2 separate regions of the Homo sapiens genome follow, and region 1 is linked to region 2. The links come from fine-mapping of genetic effects on gene expression. A gene starts in region 2. The other region holds a variant in brackets. All regions are shown on one strand. Distances are from middle to middle.

Region 1 (10,031 bases), 60 kb after region 2:
CTGCATTATACAGGCCACCAGGGGAGTGGGGAAAAGCCAGCAGTGACCGGCCTCGCCCAACTCCCACACAGCCTGAAAGGCCAGTCTCACTCCCACCATGTCTCCCATGCAGCCAGTGAGTAGGACTAAGAACTTGCCGCAGGTTACAAGCCTCCCTGCTGAAAAAGCAAGTAGGGCTTTCAGGTTTCATACCTCCCACCTGTCATGGTTTCTGTGTTCATATCTGCACTCCCTATTTGCCCCCTTTCCCAGGTTCTGTCCAGGAAACTGTATTCGGTTTAAATTTTTACAAAGTTCAGCTGGAACTTTTCTTCTTCCTATGGTCTTTCTCCAGTTACACTGGCAGCCCTCCCCAAGGATCTCTGCAAGACAAAGTCAGGAATGGTTTCCCTGGGGACTGCAAGTGCCCACAGGGCTCGTCCTGCTGCTTCCTCTACCCCTATATTTTGCTTGGCTGTAAATTTGCCTCAGCTGCATGTGAGGTCAAATCCTTCTCCCATGATCTGGACCTTCAGGTTTTCCACAGAGGATGTGTGTTCGGGGGTGGACACTCCCCATATCACACTTTGGGCACTCAGTTTTTTGGCTATCTCACAAAGCCTACAGCAGCAAGCCTCTTCCTTCAAAGCGTCTGTGGATTCTCTCGGCTTTCCTGGTATGTTCCTGTGGTAGTTCTTGGAGCAAAAGTTCATGATGTGAGTCTCCACATGCCGCTCTGTCCATCTGAATGGGAGCTGCAAGTTAGTCCTTGCCTCCTATTCACTATTTTGGGAACTGATCTGAGTCTTTACATTTAAAGTGCCTTTCTTGTAAACAACATACAGGATGTTGCTTTTTTACACAATCTAACAACTTCTGCATTTTAATTACGGCATTTGGTTCATTTACACTTAATATAATTATCAATATGTTTGGATTTAAGTCTACTGTCTTGACATGTGACTTCCATTTGTGTCTCAGCTCCTTGTTCCTCTGTTTCTACTTCTTTGCCATTTTTGTGGGTGAATAAAATAATTTTTAGTATTCCATTTTATCTCCTCTAATGACATTTTAAGTATGTCTATTTATTTTTTTAGGTTGCATTAGAAATTAAAATATGCATTTTTTTACATGATACATCTTCAACTTATCAAGTCAATATCCAAATATATCCTTCATAAATGATTTAAAACTTTATATATGTTTAATTTTTACCATCCTACTCTTAGTGTTCTTCGTGTCATATGTTTTACTTCTACTTGTTTAAATATCCAATAATTTAAAAATATTTAACTAATAGTTTTTAAGGGAGAAGTTACACATCTAAAATTAAAATATAGGTTATAAAGTCATTAGAACCCAAAATTTAGAGGGAGAATTTAGAGATCATTTTATTTCATAGATGAGGACACTGAGGTCCAGAGATATTCACACATTTTCCTAATATCACATTGTTAATCAGAGGAATGGTCAGGAAGTGATTAAAGTAAAGCAAAATATCATATACTCTAAAGGTAAAGATTTCTGGTATTAGGTTCTTGGGTCCCCAAAGGGTTCATAGAAGGCTTTAGGATGTGTCAGTGCTCTGCAATTGAGGATTCATATCTTTCATCAAAATTCCAAAAAAGTCTCCTAAAGTTCAATAACTATTTTATGAAGACAATGCTGACAATATTTTTAGAATAAAAATTCCTTTTTTTGGTAAGTAGAAAAACTCCAAGTCATGGAGACCCTGAAAAAGGAGTGTATGTATGTGTATATTTATCTATCTATAGATATAGATTTATACACATACATCCATATGCATTCATATGTATATATCCATATATATCCACATACATTCATATCCATATACACATCCGTATGTACATATATGTATATACATATGTGTATATGCATGTACATATACATATATATGGATGTGTATATATATGTGTATGCACGTGGATGCATGTAGATAGATATTTATGTATATATCCATATATATACACACACACACATAATGCCTATAAGCACATAAACACAACAAATCTGATTGATCAATTACTTCATATCAAGTATGGCAGACAGCTCTGGCTAGTTTCCTACCTGTGAATCAGAGAAAACTGATTATTCCTTTCCTTAGGAACTTAAGGTACTGACAATCTGATTGCCAAAACAAGCTGTCTAAAGTGAGACATAGACAATGTTCAAAGCAACAGTGTCCTGAAGGATCATAGTCCATTCTCTGCATTCTCTGTGTCTGTATATGCCAGAGAGCTGGTTTCTTTTTTTTTTTGAGATGGAGTCTCGCTCTGTCGCCCAGGCTGGTGCAGTGGCGCGATCTCGGCTCACTGCAAGCTCCGCCTCCCGGGTTCATGCCATTCTCCTGCCTCAGCCTCCTGAGTAGCTGGGACTACAGGCGCCCGCCAACACGCCCGGCTAATTTTTTGTATTTTTTAGTAGAGACGGTGTTTCACCATGTTAGCCAGGGAGAGCTGGTTTCTTTAAGAGTCTAGCTCCTCGAGCATCCACAGACTCAATATAAAGTAGAGGAAGGAAGTTCCTTCTTAAAAAATGTATTTCCTCATTTCAAGTTTAGTAATGTTTTCTTGTATGTATGTACAGTGGAGCATAGCAGCTCCCAGTGAGATAACAAAGGGCAGGTACTTTTGCCTTCCAAGTAAGTCTTGCCTTTTAAACCTATCAGGAAAAAAAGAAGTTTTATATATAGAGATTGGGATTCCAGAGTCATCTTATAAGGAGAAAGTATTTTCTAACATATAATCAAAATTCCTTCCCTTTAGTTTAGATCAGCTTTGTCCAATACAAATATAATGCAAGTCACATATGTAATTATAAATATTCTAGTTGGCTCATTAAAAAAAGTAAAAACAAGTAAACGTAACTTTAATAGTATATTTTAATATTTTGATAACATATCAAAATGTCACTTCAACATGCAATCTGAATAAAAATTATAAAGTTATTTTATATTCTTTTTTTCACATTAATTCTTGGACGTTCTGTTTGTATTTTACATTTATAGCATAGCTTAATTTGCAAACTAAGTTTTCATAGAAAATATTTGATCTGTATTTAGATTTCATAAAATTTACAGGCAAAATAGTTGATTTACATACTTGTTCTAAAATACTCAAAAATATTTTAATATATTATACGTGATTCATAATATATGAATCAAATATTAGTTTTAAAATTTACCACAAGTTAATTAAAACTAAATAACATTAAACTTTTGGTTCCTCGGTCATACTAACCACATTTCAAGGGCTCCGTAGTCACATGTAGCTAGTTGCTGCTGCACTGAGCAGTACGGCTCTAGTCTGTAGTAGAGATGAGATAAACTGATTGCTGTCACTCATCATATTCCGAACTTGAGAATTGTAATTGAATTGCCCCTCAAACTACTCTTCCCTCTCCTATGTACATCCATTCCCTTTAGTTTATACAAGAGTAAACCTATTTGAGGTACTGTGAAATTCTCAAAACAAAACTTTATTTATATTTTTCTAAAGAGAGAAAAGTGAATGCTTTAAAATGATTTATAGAAATCACTAAAAAAAAAATCAAACTATCACTCCAAAATGCTGAGGATAACTGAGATAGTTCTTTTTTTGAGTACTAAACAACTGTTACAACTTCAGAAACAACCAAGCAGATTTTTCAAGCAAAAATAATTGCAAAATTTCCTTCCATTGAGGGGAAAAAAACCTCTAAACACAATTTAAAGTTTTTTACTTGAATTTCCTAGTCTGAAAAGGAGCACTTTGATCAAACTATAGAAACTGATACACATTGAAATAACATACAGTTGTGAGTAGTATAAAGTGAAGGACCCAGCAGGCTAGGATAATAAATGGCAGGTAAATCAGATGACTAACCAAGAGTAGGAGGAAGGCGTGGTTCAATGGGGAGAAAAAATTCAACAGACCATGCCTTCGGGATTGATTTTCCCTGTTTATCTTGTTATGCCTGGCTGTTCATTTTGGGGTGGTGGGGTCATGGAATTGATTTTTTTAAATCAATCTTTTTATTTCTTGAGAAAACTATGATGAAATGAGATCAGCTTCACCCAGATGCAGATTTATTAGTGTTATACCCACATTTAATAGATGGTTCAATGAGAGGTTAAATTATTTGCCTGAAGTCAAACATTTAATAATTGGCTGAGCTGGGGTTCCATGCAGTTCTATCTGTTTCTGAAGAATCCCCTACATTGCAAATTCATTAATTCCCAGTGGGGCCTAGTCTCATTCAGAAATGAGAATAGTCATGTGGGCATGCAGGCCATGCCTTCTTGGCATCACGTGAACTGGGTTAGATGTGAGGTGGTTGCTTTAAGAACAAGGAATCTGAGTGAGGGTTGTTGGATAGACTAGAAGGGTGCCCACACAGGCCAGTGTCAGAGCAGTGATGAACTCTGCTCATAACAGAGTTATTCTGTGTGCCTAGGTACTGGAGTCCTCATGGCTACCACATTTAAGAGCTGTCATTCCTGTCAATTCTGGATAAATGCTTGGAAATTCTTGCTCTTTGGGTGTGTCTTTTTTTCAAATCCCTCAATGCAATAGGCTTTCCTTTTTAAAGGAACATGTACCTGAATCCTAACTTGCTGTCTCCATCATGATTTATTGCATTGGCTGGTCCCAAAGCCCTTCTGCTTCACATCCGTAGGCTAACTTCACATCTATAGGCTAATTTATTGCATTGATTGGTCCCAAAGCCCTTCTGCTTCACCTCTACATATGGCAAATTTATACTTCAGGCATTGGTTTTTACGGGTTTCATTTCTGGATGATTACCTTATTTCCAGGTCCTGTAAGAACCTTGCCTCATGTCTTTCTTATGCTAATGCAAGAGTTGTAGGAGCACATAGAATAAACCAAAGATGTAATCTCTGAACTAATGAAGTAATGAGAATCCAGGTTGTGCCTTTGTTGTAGAGTATTACCAAAATCACAAGCATTTTTTAAAAAGCTGCAACCTATCTAAACACCCTTGATATTGCAATATCACATTAATAAGAAAAGCCCCCAGAGAGCACAGTGCTCATGCCTGTGATCCCAGCACTTTGGGAAGCCGAGGCAGTCAGATCACTTGAGGTCAGAAGTTCAAGACCAGCCTGGCCAACATGTGAAACCCTGACTCAACTAAAAATACAAAAAATTAGCCAGGCTTAGTGGTGTGTGCATATAATCCCAGCTACTTGGGAGGGTGAAACAGGAGAGTATCTTGAAGCTGGAAGGCAGAGGTTGCAGCGAACTGTGATCATGCCACTGCACTCCAGCTTGGGCAACAGAGTGAGACTCCATCTCAAAGAAACAAGGAAAGCCCCCAGAAAATTTACTTTAGGTCTACTACTTTTAAAAATGTAAAATAAAAACCCAACTTAATATGAAACAAAAAAAGACAATAATCGTTAGAAAGTATTTTCTTTATTTTAATGTACACAAATGCGTACAGATACTCACAAACATATATTCTCATGACTACTTGCATGGACCAGCCCTTCCACCACTCCAGAAACACACACTAATTGGTGTTATGTTTTAG[C/T]AGCACTGGGGATACCACCATCACAGAATTTGCAGCCTGGAGTACTTCTGAAATTTCCCAGAATGCACTGATGTACTATAGTGGTCGGCTGTTCTGGATCAATGGCTTTAGGATTATCACAACTCAAGAAATAGGTCAGAAAACCAGTGTCTCTGTTTTGGAACCAGCCAGATTTAATCAGTTCACAATTATTCAGACATCCCTTAAGCCCCTGCCAGGTACAGTATTTCATTCCTGCTTACCCTACTCCACTATACCTTCAGTTAAATAAATGTTTAGGTTGGGATATTTTTTTTTCTTAAGAATTAAGTTTTAAGAGGAGTAAGGTTTCAGTAATTTCAATTGGTTTGCTTGCAGTGAGTTTAATCTTAACCCAAATTTACAGCCTGAAAAAGTCAGAAAAAGATGATTTTTTTCAGGATATGTTAAAGAAAAGAAAAATTTTGTTTCAGTTCTAATTATTAGTAATTGCTATTGATTTTCTATGATTTCTATATTGGTCAATAATCCCCATTTTTTTCTCCTATTTCTTTTTTTTGTTTCATCCTGTAGGGAACTTTTCCTTTACCCCTAAGGTTATTCCAGATTCTGTTCAAGAGTCTTCATTTAGGATTGAAGGAAATGCTTCAAGTTTTCAAATCCTGTGGAATGGTCCCCCTGCGGTAGACTGGGGTGTAGTTTTCTACAGTGTAGAATTTAGTGCTCATTCTAAGGTATGGTGTTGGTTCTAGTAACTTTCATTTCCCAAACAGACTGTACCATCTGTGTCAGCCTTGCCCACACTGACCTGTATCATCTTGACTTAGCCAAGCCCATCTTCTTTGTCATTCCCATAGCATTTGGTCATTAAGATTATTCCCCAGAAGACTTGTTTGCAGCCAGTCTCTGACTGCTTGGTGCTAACTGCTGTGCTGGATACACTTTAACTGGTCTGTGTGGCACAACACAGAACTTGCCAAAATTAGCACTTCCAAAATTGCAAATTTTGATTTTACATGTGAACTAAAGTTTGGAGATTTTAGATAATAAGGAATGAAAGATTTTATAATTCTCTCCCTGAGAAAATAATGTTTTCTGTTTATATTTTAGTTCTTGGCTAGTGAACAACACTCTTTACCTGTATTTACTGTGGAAGGACTGGAACCTTATGCCTTATTTAATCTTTCTGTCACTCCTTATACCTACTGGGGAAAGGGCCCCAAAACATCTCTGTCACTTCGAGCACCTGAAACAGGTACAGGGGTTAAAATCTGTCTTTTTTCTTAAAAAAGCAGAATCTCACTTTTCATGATCTGGAATGGATAGTTGATATTTAAAAATAACTTTCAGTTTTATAGATGTGTTTAGATTCAATACCCTTTCAATGACTTTTTGGAGATTAGAATAGCGTCATTAACATAAATATGCATAATTTATTCCAAAAGAATATTTCAAAGATTTCTTAACAGCCATTTCATTTGATTGTAGTGATGTAGAAGATGCAGATGCATATTTCAGGTAATTTGCAAAATCCTTTATAAGGAAAATGGGCATTTAAGGGCAGAGACAGTTTTCTTGGAAGGCAGACTGTTCTCATAGATGGGAACTCAGAATCTTCTGTAGGTGAATAACTGATATCTAAATTTAATGTTTTGGGGAAAAGATATTTTAAAAAAGATACTAGCCATATCATTACATGTGTGTATCACCTTAAAGTGTACAAAACACATTTTTATGTATCACTCCTTTATTAACTATTTACTACATACCTATCATGTGTCAGAAACATCATTTCATTTGATCCTCACAGAGCTCTGAGGTGGGTAGGAAAGTCTTATTATCTTGATTATGCAAGAAAGAAAATGAAAGCCTAGTAGTTGCCCAAATAAAATAGTTACTAAGTGGCTGGGCTGGGACTTAATCTGGACTTTTCACTACAGTTTCATCAAATCTCCATTCAGTCACTTTTACAAATGTTGGTAAATGATAGTAATTTATGTAAAGCTAATACAGGATTTGGCAGGTGGTAAGAGCTTAATAAATATAGATATCCATTCTCCATTGCATTTTTTACTATTAAGATTATTTCAACAATATCCATCTACGAATTACACAACAGGAACATAGTGGGGCCTGGGCAGGTTCCGGAGCAGTTAGCATTGGATCCAGGAATGTTCTGCTTGAGATTTCCTTGGGATATCAGCTTGGTTGAATTGTCCTGTGGAAATGGACTTGACTGCATCCATCAGGGGATCCAGTGGGAGCAAGAGTCAACAGCACTCTGCTGGATATTGGAGAATAAGAAAGGATGACAAGATTTGGCCTTTGCCTTCAGGAAATTTACAATATAGCCAGGAAATTATCCAAATTGACCAATATTTATTAACCACTTACTGTATGCCAGTTCTGTACTAGATATGGGAAGATTTAACAAGGAATAAGAAGAGATGCTTTCTCTGATGGAGTTCATAAAACAGGAGGGAGATAAACACATGCACAGCAAATGATAATAGATACTAGAGAGTTATACCTGAGCAGCAGTGGCATAGAGTGAGTAGACAAGCCTATGAAACCTTCACCTATATCAAGCTGCCTCAGGCATTTTTAAGAGAGAAGGTGCCTTTGGGAAATGGAAACTTTAGTGCACTCTGAAAGATGGAGCAAGAAGAGGTATCCCATGTGAGAAGAGAAGCCTAATGTAAGAAGGCCTGGAGATTGAATAATAGTATGAGTGTTAAACATTAAATAGCAATGTGATTGGAATGAGGGAGGGAATGAAGACCTTGTGGAGGAGTCCTAAGAGAGGAGAGGGCCATCCAGAGAGAATGACTTAGAAATCAGGCAGAGACATTTCTCTTGATTAAAGGACTGAGAGATACTGAATTGCTTGGTTTGGCTCTAGAATAAATGAATACTCCCAAACCTTACTCTTGGGGTACGATCAGCCTCCCCTAAACTTTCTGCTTTCTAGGAACTTCAGAGTGACAGGGCCTAGGTCTCTGATTTATGCTGTGTTTTACAACCTGAACTGGCTGAAGGCTGGTGGGACTTACTGCCATCCATCCTGATGATGACATTTTCACCTTCACTGAAATCACTCTGTCAGGATAAAAGTGAATGTTGCATTTTACGGGGAGAACCAGACAGCTTCCATCTACACAAGGCACAGACAAGAAAGGTGTGCTTAAGTGGTAGTAGGAAGGATTTGAGTTGAACATAAGGAAGTCTTGCCTGTCAGTCAGATGTGCTGAAATTATCAGGATGGGTTCCTGAAGAAATCTATGGAATATTCTCTCCTGAAGATCTTTAAGAATGTAATAAATATACTGCAACTGCCTGGAATGAGAAATATTGTTAAGTTGTTTACAATCTTATTATAAGTGGTAAAAGTCTTATATTCTTTATATTCTTATATTCTTTTCTGCTCTACCTGTGCCTCTACTTTTCAGTTCCATCAGCACCAGAGAACCCCAGAATATTTATATTACCAAGTGGAAAATGCTGCAACAAGAATGAAGTTGTGGTGGAATTTAGGTGGAACAAACCTAAGCATGAAAATGGGGTGTTAACAAAATTTGAAATTTTCTACAATATATCCAATCAAAGTATTACAAACAAAACATGTGAAGACTGGATTGCTGTCAATGTCACTCCCTCAGTGATGTCTTTTCAACTTGAAGGCATGAGTCCCAGATGCTTTATTGCCTTCCAGGTATGAGAGAGAAAACAGAAGATATGAGAGTCTTAATAGCGGCATTGTGGGGAGAGGGAAAGACTATGTTTCTGGGATATGTTACAGTGTAAATGGCACACATACCTAGATTTTGATTGGCCACTATAGTTTTTTAAAATTATGTGAGAAAATTAATGGAGGTAATTCAGATAAGAGTGACTAAAGTAAACTGTTAAAGAAATGGAAAGTGGACCTTTTGAGGATTAATATGCAGGAATTCGTTTTTATTCCATTAAAGACGACTGCAGTTAAAAAAAAAAGTTTAAACAGAAGAATAATTAAAGGACTAGGTTAAGAATTCTGCCACCCTGTCAATAATTTAGGTATACTGTGATCAAAGAGGTCAAGTGGGCAGCAAAAGTAGAGAGGCAAGAGGGGATTGCTTGGGTGAAGGACACTTTCACAACTTTCTCACATTCAGGGAACTTTGCAAATTCAGAGTAAGTCATTCTTTTTCTTTTTGCTTTTCTTTTGAAGCTGTATCATGATTTTAATTTCTGTATGTTACACATTACTGATTTGTTTTACATTTTTTATTGATATATATTATAGTTGTACATACATTTGGGGTACATGTGTTATTTTGATAAACCATTATTTTTCAATAAAATCACTATAGGCCTTGCACCACTGTAGGTATTTTTGTATTCATTATCTCATTTGATCCTCATACTATAAAGAAAAAGTTAAGTCGTTGAGAGTATCAGTCAATTACCAAAGCTGCGTGGCTGGAAAGCACTGTGCTGTAATGCTTTCCACCATTTCTTTTTGGGGAAAATAACAT
Region 2 (10,031 bases):
AGGTCACTGCAGTCAGTGTTGCTCTGTGCTTTCTCTGAGTTGCTACTCCTGGTGCTATGGTGGTCTTGCCTCTGCTACTGCCACTCTGGCTGGTTTATATGCCTGAATAATGAGTTTTAAAATCATATTTGCACGTGTCATGGTAACTTCACATTAAAAAACATACAATGAATGCACAAAAAAAAAAGCAAGAAACTAAATCATATCACCAGAGAAAATAATCTTCACTAGAGGAAGACAAGAATGAAAGAAAGAAGACCAAAAAACAATATGAAAAGAACAAAATGACAGGTGTAAGTCCTTACTTGTCCATAATAACCTTAAATGTCAATGGGCTAAACTCTCCAATCAAAAGACATAGACTGGCTGAATGGATGAAAAAAAAAACAGTTGATCTTCTGCCTACAAGAAACACACTTCACCTATAAAGATACACAGAGATGGAAAATAAAGGATTGTAAAAAAATATTCCATGCCAAGAGCAGGAGTAGCTATACTTACATCAGACAAAATAGAATTCAAGACAAAAGCAATAAGAAGAGAAGTAGGTCACTATGTAATGATAAGGGGGGTTGGCTCAGCAAGAGGATACAACAATTTTAAATATATATTCACCCAACACTGGAGCACCCACATATATAAAAGAAATATTATTAGAGCTAAGGAGAGAGAGAGACTCTAACACAATAATAGCTGGAGACTTCCACACCTCACTTTCAGCATTGGACAGATCATTCAGACAGAAAATCAACAAAGAAACATCAGACTTAATCTGCAATATAGATCAAATGGATCTAATAGATATTTACAGAACATTTCATCCAAGGGCTGCAGAATACACTTTTTTTTTTTTTTTTTTTTTTTTTTGAGACAGAGTCTCAGCTCACTGCAAGCTCCGCCTCCCGGGTTCACACCATTCTCCTGCCTCAGCCTCCCGAGTAGCTGGGACTACAGTCACCCACCACCATGTCCAGCTAAGTTTTTGTATTTTTAGTAGAGACGGGGTTTCACCATGTTAGCCGGGATGGTCTCGATCTCCTGACCTCGTGATCCACCCACCTCAGGCTCCCAAAGTGCTGGGATTACAGGCATGAGCCACCACACCCAGCCAGAATACACATTATTTTCCTCAGCACATGAATCGTTCTTAAGGATAGGCCAGATGTTAGGTCACAAAACGAACCTTAAAACATTAAAAAAACTGAGATAATATCAAGCATCTTCTCTGACAAAAATAAAACTAGAAATTAATAACAAGAGAAATTTTGGAAACTATTCAAATACATAGAATTTAAACAATATGCTCCTGAACGATCAGTGAGCCAATGAAGAAATTAAGAAGGAAATTGAAAAATTTCTTGAAACAAATGATAATGAAAACACAATATACCAAAATCTATGGGATACAGCAAAAGCAATAGTAAGATAGAATTTTATAGCTCTAAGTATCTACATCAAAAAAAAAGGAAAAACTTCAAATGACAATCTAATGATGCATTTTAAAGAACTAGAAAAGCAAGAGCAAACCAAACCCAGAATTAGTAGAAGAAAAGAAATAATAAAGATCAGAGCAGGACAAAATGGAAAAAACAAAAAAAAAGAAACAAAGTTTTATTTTTTTGAAAAGTTAAACAAAATGGACAAACCTTTAGCCAGTTTAAGAAAAAAAGAAAGAAGATCAAAATAAATAAAATCAGAAATGAAAAAGGAGACATTACAACTGATATCTGCAGTATTCAAAGGATCATTAGTGGCTACTCTGAGCAACTATATGCTAATAAATGGAAACATATAGAAGCAATGGACAAGTTCCTAGATACATATAACCTGCCAAAATTGAACCAGGAAGAAATCCAAAACCTGAGCAGACCAATAACAAGTAATGAGATTGAAGCTGTAATAAAAGTCTCCCAGTAAAGAAAAGCCTGAGACCTAATAGCTTCACTGCTGAATTCTAGCAAATATTTAAAGAAAAACTAATACGAATCCTACTCAACTTATTCTGAAAAACAGAGAAGGAGGGAATACTTCCAAACTCATTCTATGAGGCCAGTACTTCCCTGATACTGAAACCAGATAAAGACACACCAAAAAAGAAAACTACAGGCCAATCTTTGATACATATTGATGCAAAAGTCCACAACTAAATACTAGCAAATTGAATTCAACAATACATTAGAAAGATCATTCATCATGACCAAGTGGGATTTATCCCTGGGATGGAAGGATGATTCAACATATACAAATCAATCAGTGTGCTACATCATATCAAAAGAATGAAGGATCAAAAGCATATGATCATTTTAATTGATGCTGAAAAAGCATTTGGTAAAATTCAACATCCTTTTATGATAAAAACCCTAAAAAAAAAAACTGGGGATAGAAGGAACATACCTGAACATAATAAAAGCCATATATAACCTACCCACAGCTAGTATTATACTGAATGGGGAAAAACTGAAAGCCTTTCCTCTAAGGTCTGGAACATGACAAAGATGCCCACTTCACCACTGTTATTCAACACAGTACTGGACATCCCAGCTAGAGCAATCAGACAAGAGAAAGATATTAAGGGCATCCAAATTGTAAAGGAGGAAGTCAAATCATCCTTGTTTGCAGATGACATATCTCACATGCTGAGAAACCTGGAGACTCCACAGGAAAACTAGCAGAACTGATAAACAAATTTAGTAATTCAGTAGTAGCATTTCTGTATGTCAAGAGTGAACAATCTGAAAAAGAAATCAAGAAAGTAATTCCATTTACAATAGCTACAAATAAAATTAAGTATCTAGGAATTAACCAAAGAAGTGAAAGATCTCTGTAATGAAAACTATAAAACACTGATTAAAGACATTGATTAGGACACACAAAAAATGGAAAAACATTCCATGTTCATTAATTGGAAAAGTCAATATTGTTAAAATGTCCATACTCCCCAAAGCAATCTACAGATTCAATGCAATCCCTATAAAAATACCAATGACATTCTTCACAGAAATAGAAAAAAACAATCCTAAGATTTATATTGAACCACAAGAGACCAAGAATAGCCAAAGCTATCCTAAGCAAAAGAACAAAACTGGAGGAATTACATTACCTGACTTCAAATTATACTACAGAGCTATAGTAACCAAAACAGCATGCTACTGGCATAAAAATAGACACACAGATCAGTGAAACAGACTAGGGAATCCAGAAAGAAATCCACACACCTACAGTAAACTCATTTTTGACAAAGATGCCAAGAACATACACTGGGGAAAAGACAGTCTCTTCAATAAATGGTGTGGGGAAAACTGGATATACATATATAAAGGAATAAAACTAGACCCCTATCTCTCTCCATATACAAAATTCAAATCAAAATGGACTAAAGACTTAAATCTAAGACCTCAAACCATGAAACTACTACAAAAAACATTGGGGAAATCTCCAGGACATTGGTTGGGGTAAAAATTTCTTGAGCAATACCCAACAAGCACAGGCAACCAAAGCAAAAATGGACAAACGAGATCACATCAAGTTAAAAATCTTCTTTACAGCAAAGGATACAATTAACAAAGTTAAGAGAAAACCCACAGAATGGGAGAAAATATTTGCAAACTACCCATCAGACAAGGGATTAATAACCAGAATAAATAAAAAGCTCAAACAACTCTATAGAAAAAAAATCAAATAATCCAATCAAAGGATGGGCAAAAGATTTGAATAGACATTTCTCAAAAGACATACGAATGACAAACAGGCATATGAAAAGGTGTTTAACATCATTAATCATCAGAAAAATGCAAATCAAAACTACAATGGGATATCATCTTACCCAGTTAAAATGGCTTATGTCCAAAAGACAGGCTATAACAAATGCTGGTGGCAATGTGGAGAAAAGGAAACCCTTGTATATTTTTGATGAGAATGTAAATCAATACAACCACTATGGAGAACAGTTTGGAAGTTCCTCAAAAAACTAAAAATTGAGCTACCATATGATCTAGAATTCTACTGCTGGGTATATGCCTAAAAGAAAGAAAATCAGTATATCAAAGAAATATCTGCATGTGAATGTTTATTGCAGCACTGTTTACAATAGCTAAGATTTGGAAGCAACCTAAGTATGCATCAACAGATGAATGGGTAAAGAAAATGTGGTACATATACACAATGGAGAACTATTCAGCCATATTCAGTCACGTCCAACAACATGGATGGAACTGGAGATTATTACGTTAAGTGAATTGAGCTAGGCACAGAAAGGCAAGCATTGCATGTTTTCACTTATTTATGGGATCTAGAAATCAAAACAATTGAATTCATGGACAAAGAGAGTATAAGGATGGTTGCCAGAGGCTGGGAAGGGTGGTGGTGGGTGGGGTGGGGGATGGGAGATGGGGACAGTTAATGGGTACAAAAAATGTAGAAAGAATAAATAAGACCTACTATTTGATAGCACAACAGGGTGACTACAGTCAATAATAACTGTACATATTAAAATGACTTAGAACATACTTGGATTGTTTGCAACTCAGTGGATAAATGCTTGAGGGGATGGACACCCCATTCTTCATGATGTGCTCATTTCACATGGCATGTCTGTTTCAAAACATCTCCTGTACCCCATAAATACATACACCTACTATGTACCCACAAAAATTAAAAAACAAACAAACAAAAATCCAATCAAAAGACGTTCAGCTCAAAACAAAACCTCATGCATGTGTTACTCATAGGGAGAACCTTATATCATTAAGAAAAGGTTAAGTTACATTTAGTATAATTTATTTAAGAAAACAAGGAGGTTGGCCTGTTGTACCGCGGTGGCTCACGCCTGTAATCCTAGCACTTTTGGAGGCCGAGGTGGGCGGATCACGAGGTCAAGAGATCGAGACCACTCTGGGCAACATGGTGAAACCCCATCTCTACTAAAAATACAAAAATTAGCTGGGCATGGTGGCGGGCGTCTGTAGTCTCAGCTACTCGGGAGGCTGAGGCAGGAGAATCGCTTGAACCTGGGAGGCGGAGGTTGCAGTGAGCTGGGATCATGCCACTGCACTGTAGCCTGGGCGACAGACAGAAATTCAGTCTCAAAGAAAGAGAGAGAGAGAGAGAGAGGAAGGAAGGCAGGCAGGAAGGAAGCTTGTACAATGTTTCCTTCTCAAAGCAGACACTTGAACATATCTTAGGTTTCTGGTAACTAGTTTCAGCTGTCTCGATAGACCTGATAAGTCAGTATTTTAGTTAATATGTAGTAAAGTTCTGAGAGTACTCTAACCAACTTCCTTGTTTTTAACTCTCTCCCAGGGTATTTGTCTATTAATTTCAGCTTTGTTTGCTCTTAAATTTAAAAATATGTATTTGGCTTCTGAGTTCTGTTTTCTCTCTCAGTTGCATTGCTTGATTTGGGTGCCTCTATTTTTCCAATAATTCTTTATTATAATAGTGCTACTGTTTGCTAAAGCATACGTGGTCAAAACCCAATTCCCTGCAGAGCTGAAAAGAGCTCAGAGAAGTAAGGTGGTGGACGACCCACTGAAATGTTCCAGTTTCAGACTGCATGTGTCACACCCTTGCTGAAATACAATTCGTTTTCTTTAATTTCCATGTGAAGTGCACTTCTAAGAACTAACCTTTAGTCACTGGGTGACTTTATGGGAGTAAAAGGAAGCTGTTATGAAATAGCTCTTATGGAACTGTTACAAGCTTTCAAGCATTCAAAGGTCTAAATGAAAAAGGCTAAGTATTATTTCAAAAGGCAAGTATATCCTAATATAGCAAAACAAACAAAGCAAAATCCATCAGCTACTCCTCCAATTGAAGTGATGAAGCCCAAATAATTCATATAGCAAAATGGAGAAAATTAGACCGGCCATCTAAAAATCTGCCATTGGTGAAGTGATGAAGAACATTTACTGTCTTATTCCGAAGCTTGTCAATTTTGCAACTCTTGGCTGCCTATGGATTTCTGTGGTGCAGTGTACAGTTTTAAATAGCTGCCTAAAGTCGTGTGTAACTAATCTGGTAAGTCTCACAATCTAATATTTGTCTTTGCAGGAACTAGAACATGTAGCATTCAGCTTGTTATAACTGATAGAATTGTTTTCTCTTTATGAGGAGTTTTCTTATGAGAAGTGGTGGCAACAAGGCAAGATAGATTATTTTTTCTTAAATAAGTTAGGAGCCCTTATAATTGCAGAAGATAAAGCAGGCTATTTTATTTCTTTAGGGTATGTGGTCATATATTTTTTGGGCTAGAGGACTGGGTAAAGGAGGTTTAAATGGAATCAATTTTGCCAATTTTGCACACTTAAAAACTTTCTATTTAAACTTATTTATTACAAAGTCATTAGTAGTTGTCTTGAAACCTGAAATCGGTTTGGCCACAGGATAATGCCTGCTAATTCCAGCTGTGTAGGGAGCTGGATGAAAAAGGAAGCAGATACAGTTGCCATGTAAAATAATATTTTAAAGCAATAATTATTTGTACATTTCTTTATTTCTGTTTGTGCATTTATTATTTTAGTTAGTGAGTTTTTTATATGGAAATTCATGCTTTCATTCTCATTTCTGGGTGTCATCCCTTCTCTAACTATTGTACCATCTCTTTTCAGTTGTAATTTAGTTGTGCTTAAAACAGTCACTGAATTAACTTTAAAAACCAAGTACTCTATAGACAGAGAAAATGCACTCTTCCTGTCTAAAGACAAATAAAATATCATGATAGTTTGCATATGACCCTATCTATAGCCATACTTTTAAACATAATGCAAGTACTAAATATAGTATTCATTATATTATTCTAAAGTATTGGAGATAGAATTATGTGGCAGATTAAAAAGAAACTTGCACTTATACACTTTTGATTTAAACTGTAGTTTAAAACACTACTTAGGTTTACCATGGTTAGTAGCATTTTTTTAAAAGTTTAGTATTTTATATAAATCTTTGCCGAAGACTTCATTGCCTTTAATATAGAATTGCATGCTTTAGTTTTTTATATTTGTAACCCAAACTTAAAAATGGAAGAATGGAACTACTAAATGTTTCAACTACTGAATGGAAAACTAAATGTTCTAAAAAAGATTTTAACTTTTTTCTAATTATAATAAGAGTATACATTTTAAATAAAATATTTATAACATAGAGAACTACAGAAGAATAAAAAACTTCTAATTCTAGCCCTAGTAATCTTTTGATTGAATTTTCTTTTAGTATTTTTCCTCATATATATATATGTATACATATATATCTATAATTTACACCCAGCTATGCAACCAGCTTTTTCATTACATTGTATTGTGAGTTTTCCCCTAGACCCTGAGATTTTTTTAGAAACAGAATCTTTATTATCTTTAGAGTATTCCATTATATGAATGTACCACCATAATTTATTTGTTAATTTCCCTGCTACTGAAACTGATTTTAGTTGTTTCCAATATTGCAGTCTCCATTTTATTTTACTGTCGTTTTATTTATTCTTATCTTTTTGTGTGGGCTCCTTGCTTCCAGGGTTTGGCAGTAGGAATAGACAGTTTGTTCCTTTGTTGAGTTGCCTTCCGTTCACCACCTACAGAGAATGGCACAGCTGATGTGTGGCAACAGCAAGAGAGACACGGTCTGCCAATTTGACCAGTGAAAGTACTACATGTTCCCACATAGGGCCTGGAGGGACAAAAGTGAAGTGAATGTACAATTGAATGTAACCATGGTTCACAGGAGAGGATATACAAAGTGCTCAAGTTTATTATATTTTCTGCATCATTTTTAAAAACATGGACATTTACTCTGAAGGTCATCTATAATTTTATTGGGTGATTCTTGATATTGAGAAATGTTTTCTTAAAAAAAAAAAGTCACCACAAGAATGTCTTGTCCAAAAATAAAATGTTAGAATTGTGGGCCAAATTGCACGAAGCAGAGTTCTATGCTTGAGCATTGGTATTTTACATTACTTTTATCTTACGTTAACAGAGATCTGCATGTACTAGTTGAAAGTATTAACTGAAAAGTTTTTTTGAATTCTAGAAGCCATGTGCTGCAGAAAACAACAAACAATTAATGCTCTTCAGAACTCTAGTATTGTGAGATCCTTTATGATAAAGAAAAAAGAATTCACGGTTGAATCATTTGTGGAAGTGTATTTTGCTATGCCCTCTTTTTGTAGATTCACAGGGCACAATAACATGTTAAAAGCTTTGTTTAATCATAATTTTCCCATCTTTAGCAACAAAACCCTTTTTTAATGTTTCCATAAGTTATTGGGGGAACAGGTGCTATTTGGTTACATGAGTAAATTCTTTAGTGGTGATCTGTGAGATTTTGGTGCACCCATCAGCCATGTATACACTACACCATATTTGTAGTCTTTTATCCCTCACCCTGCTCCCACTCTTTCCCCTAAGTCCCCAAAGCCCATTGTATCATTTTTATGCCTTTGCATTCTCATAGTTTTGCTCCCACTTATCAGTGAGAACATACGATGTTTGGTTTTCCATTCCTGAATTACATCACAAACCCCCTTTTTTTTTTGAATTAACAAATCACAACAACTGAGGAACTAATATTGAGAAGGGCTCAGGAGTATCAATTCCATTCAATAAATTTCATTCAATATCAATTTATTGAATGGATTCCATTCAATAAATTTTCCTAGGTATCTATGTATATTCAGCTCTGTGGTGGATGCAATTCGGAATACAAAAGAAGTGAATTATGTAATCAATGCCCTAAAGTAAGTTATCAAATACTGAGATATCAAGGTTTCTATCACTAGACAGTTAAAGGCTGTTACAAACATGATGTGCTTTTATAATATTAGAGGGTGATGACAATACATTTATTTTTGATTTGTATCTTAAGTTCCAAAGAAATAAACTGAAAATCAACTGAAAGACTATTAGAAATAATAGGATTTGGAAGATTTTTAAAAAATTAATGTACAGACATGAAAAATTGTCTTGTATATCAATATATAACATTAAAACAAAATAATATAATAAGATCATAATTCAGAAATTTTATAAAATATTTACAAATTAGCATAGTTTTTATTGCTACAGGAATAAACCTGTGAGTAAAACAGAATACAATCAAGAAATAAAACCATGTACATAAAGAATGTGAAATATGATAAAGATGACAATTCAAACCAATGAGTTGCTATCCATGTAGCATAAAAAATTCCTACATAACTGCCAGATTCAAATAAATTTCAGGATATATTTTGTAAAAAGGTATGACTTTTGGTTAAGTGCGATGGCTCATGCCTGTAATTCCAGCACTATGGGAGGCTGAGGCGGACAGTTCCCTTCAGCCCAGGAGTTTGAGACCAGCCTGGGCAACATGGTGAGACTCCTGTCTCTACAACAAATACAAAAATTAGCTAGGCGTGGTGGCATGCACCTGTAGTCCCAGCTACTTAGGAGGCTGAGGTGGGAGGATTGATTGAGCAGGGAGGTCGAGGATGCTGTCAGCTGTGATTACACCACTGTGCTCCAGCCTGGGTGACTCTGTTTCTAAGAAACAAAAACAGAAAGGTTTACTTAAATGCAAACAGACAAATAAACAAAACAAAGCAAGTGTTTACTTCATAAAAATATTAGAAGAAATTGGGGTGACTGTTTCTGTAATCTTGAAGTAGAAATGCCTTAAGAAGCCTAATTAAAAAATTTAGACTCCCTAAAAAGAAATTATCAATAAATTTGACTACTTAGAAACTTAAACTGTTATGACAACAGTATACAATAACTGCAAAGCCAAAAAGTGGAAAAAAAGTATTACACATGATAAATAATGTTTTTAAAGAAAAAATCCCTGATACACATAAAAGCATGTAAGATGAATTTAGAATATAAACAGCCACTTCAAAAAAGAAGTATAAGTGTCCATCAACTGATGAGTGGATAAAAAAATGTGATATATATACACCATGGAATACTACTCAGCCATAAAAAGGAATGAAATAATGTCTTTGCAGCAACTTGGATGGAGCTGGAGGCCATTATTCTATGGAGGCCATTATTTGGCCAGGAATAGAA

What was found. PIP is the estimated chance that this variant, and not a neighbour inherited with it, causes the effect. A credible set is the group of variants that fine-mapping cannot tell apart.
Region 1: its variant is the best candidate, but not a certain one, in a credible set for the expression of ROS1 in lung (TOPMed, PIP 0.71).

The regions. Positions count from the first base shown.
Region 1 is chr6:117,361,798-117,371,828 of GRCh38, reverse strand. ROS1 (ROS proto-oncogene 1, receptor tyrosine kinase) reads left to right here. Exons shown (of 44, transcript NM_001378902.1): 19 at 5,539-5,753; 20 at 6,088-6,248; 21 at 6,625-6,769; 22 at 8,964-9,226. Among named protein-coding and RNA genes, the nearest start is that of ROS1, 59 kb to the left of the region's middle. The variant C/T (reference allele first, on the strand shown) is at 5,536.
Region 2 is chr6:117,421,518-117,431,548 of GRCh38, reverse strand. It overlaps ROS1 (ROS proto-oncogene 1, receptor tyrosine kinase), which reads left to right and starts at 5,607. Exons shown (of 44, transcript NM_001378902.1): 1 at 5,607-6,015. The coding sequence starts at 5,893. It also overlaps the pseudogene RAP1BP3.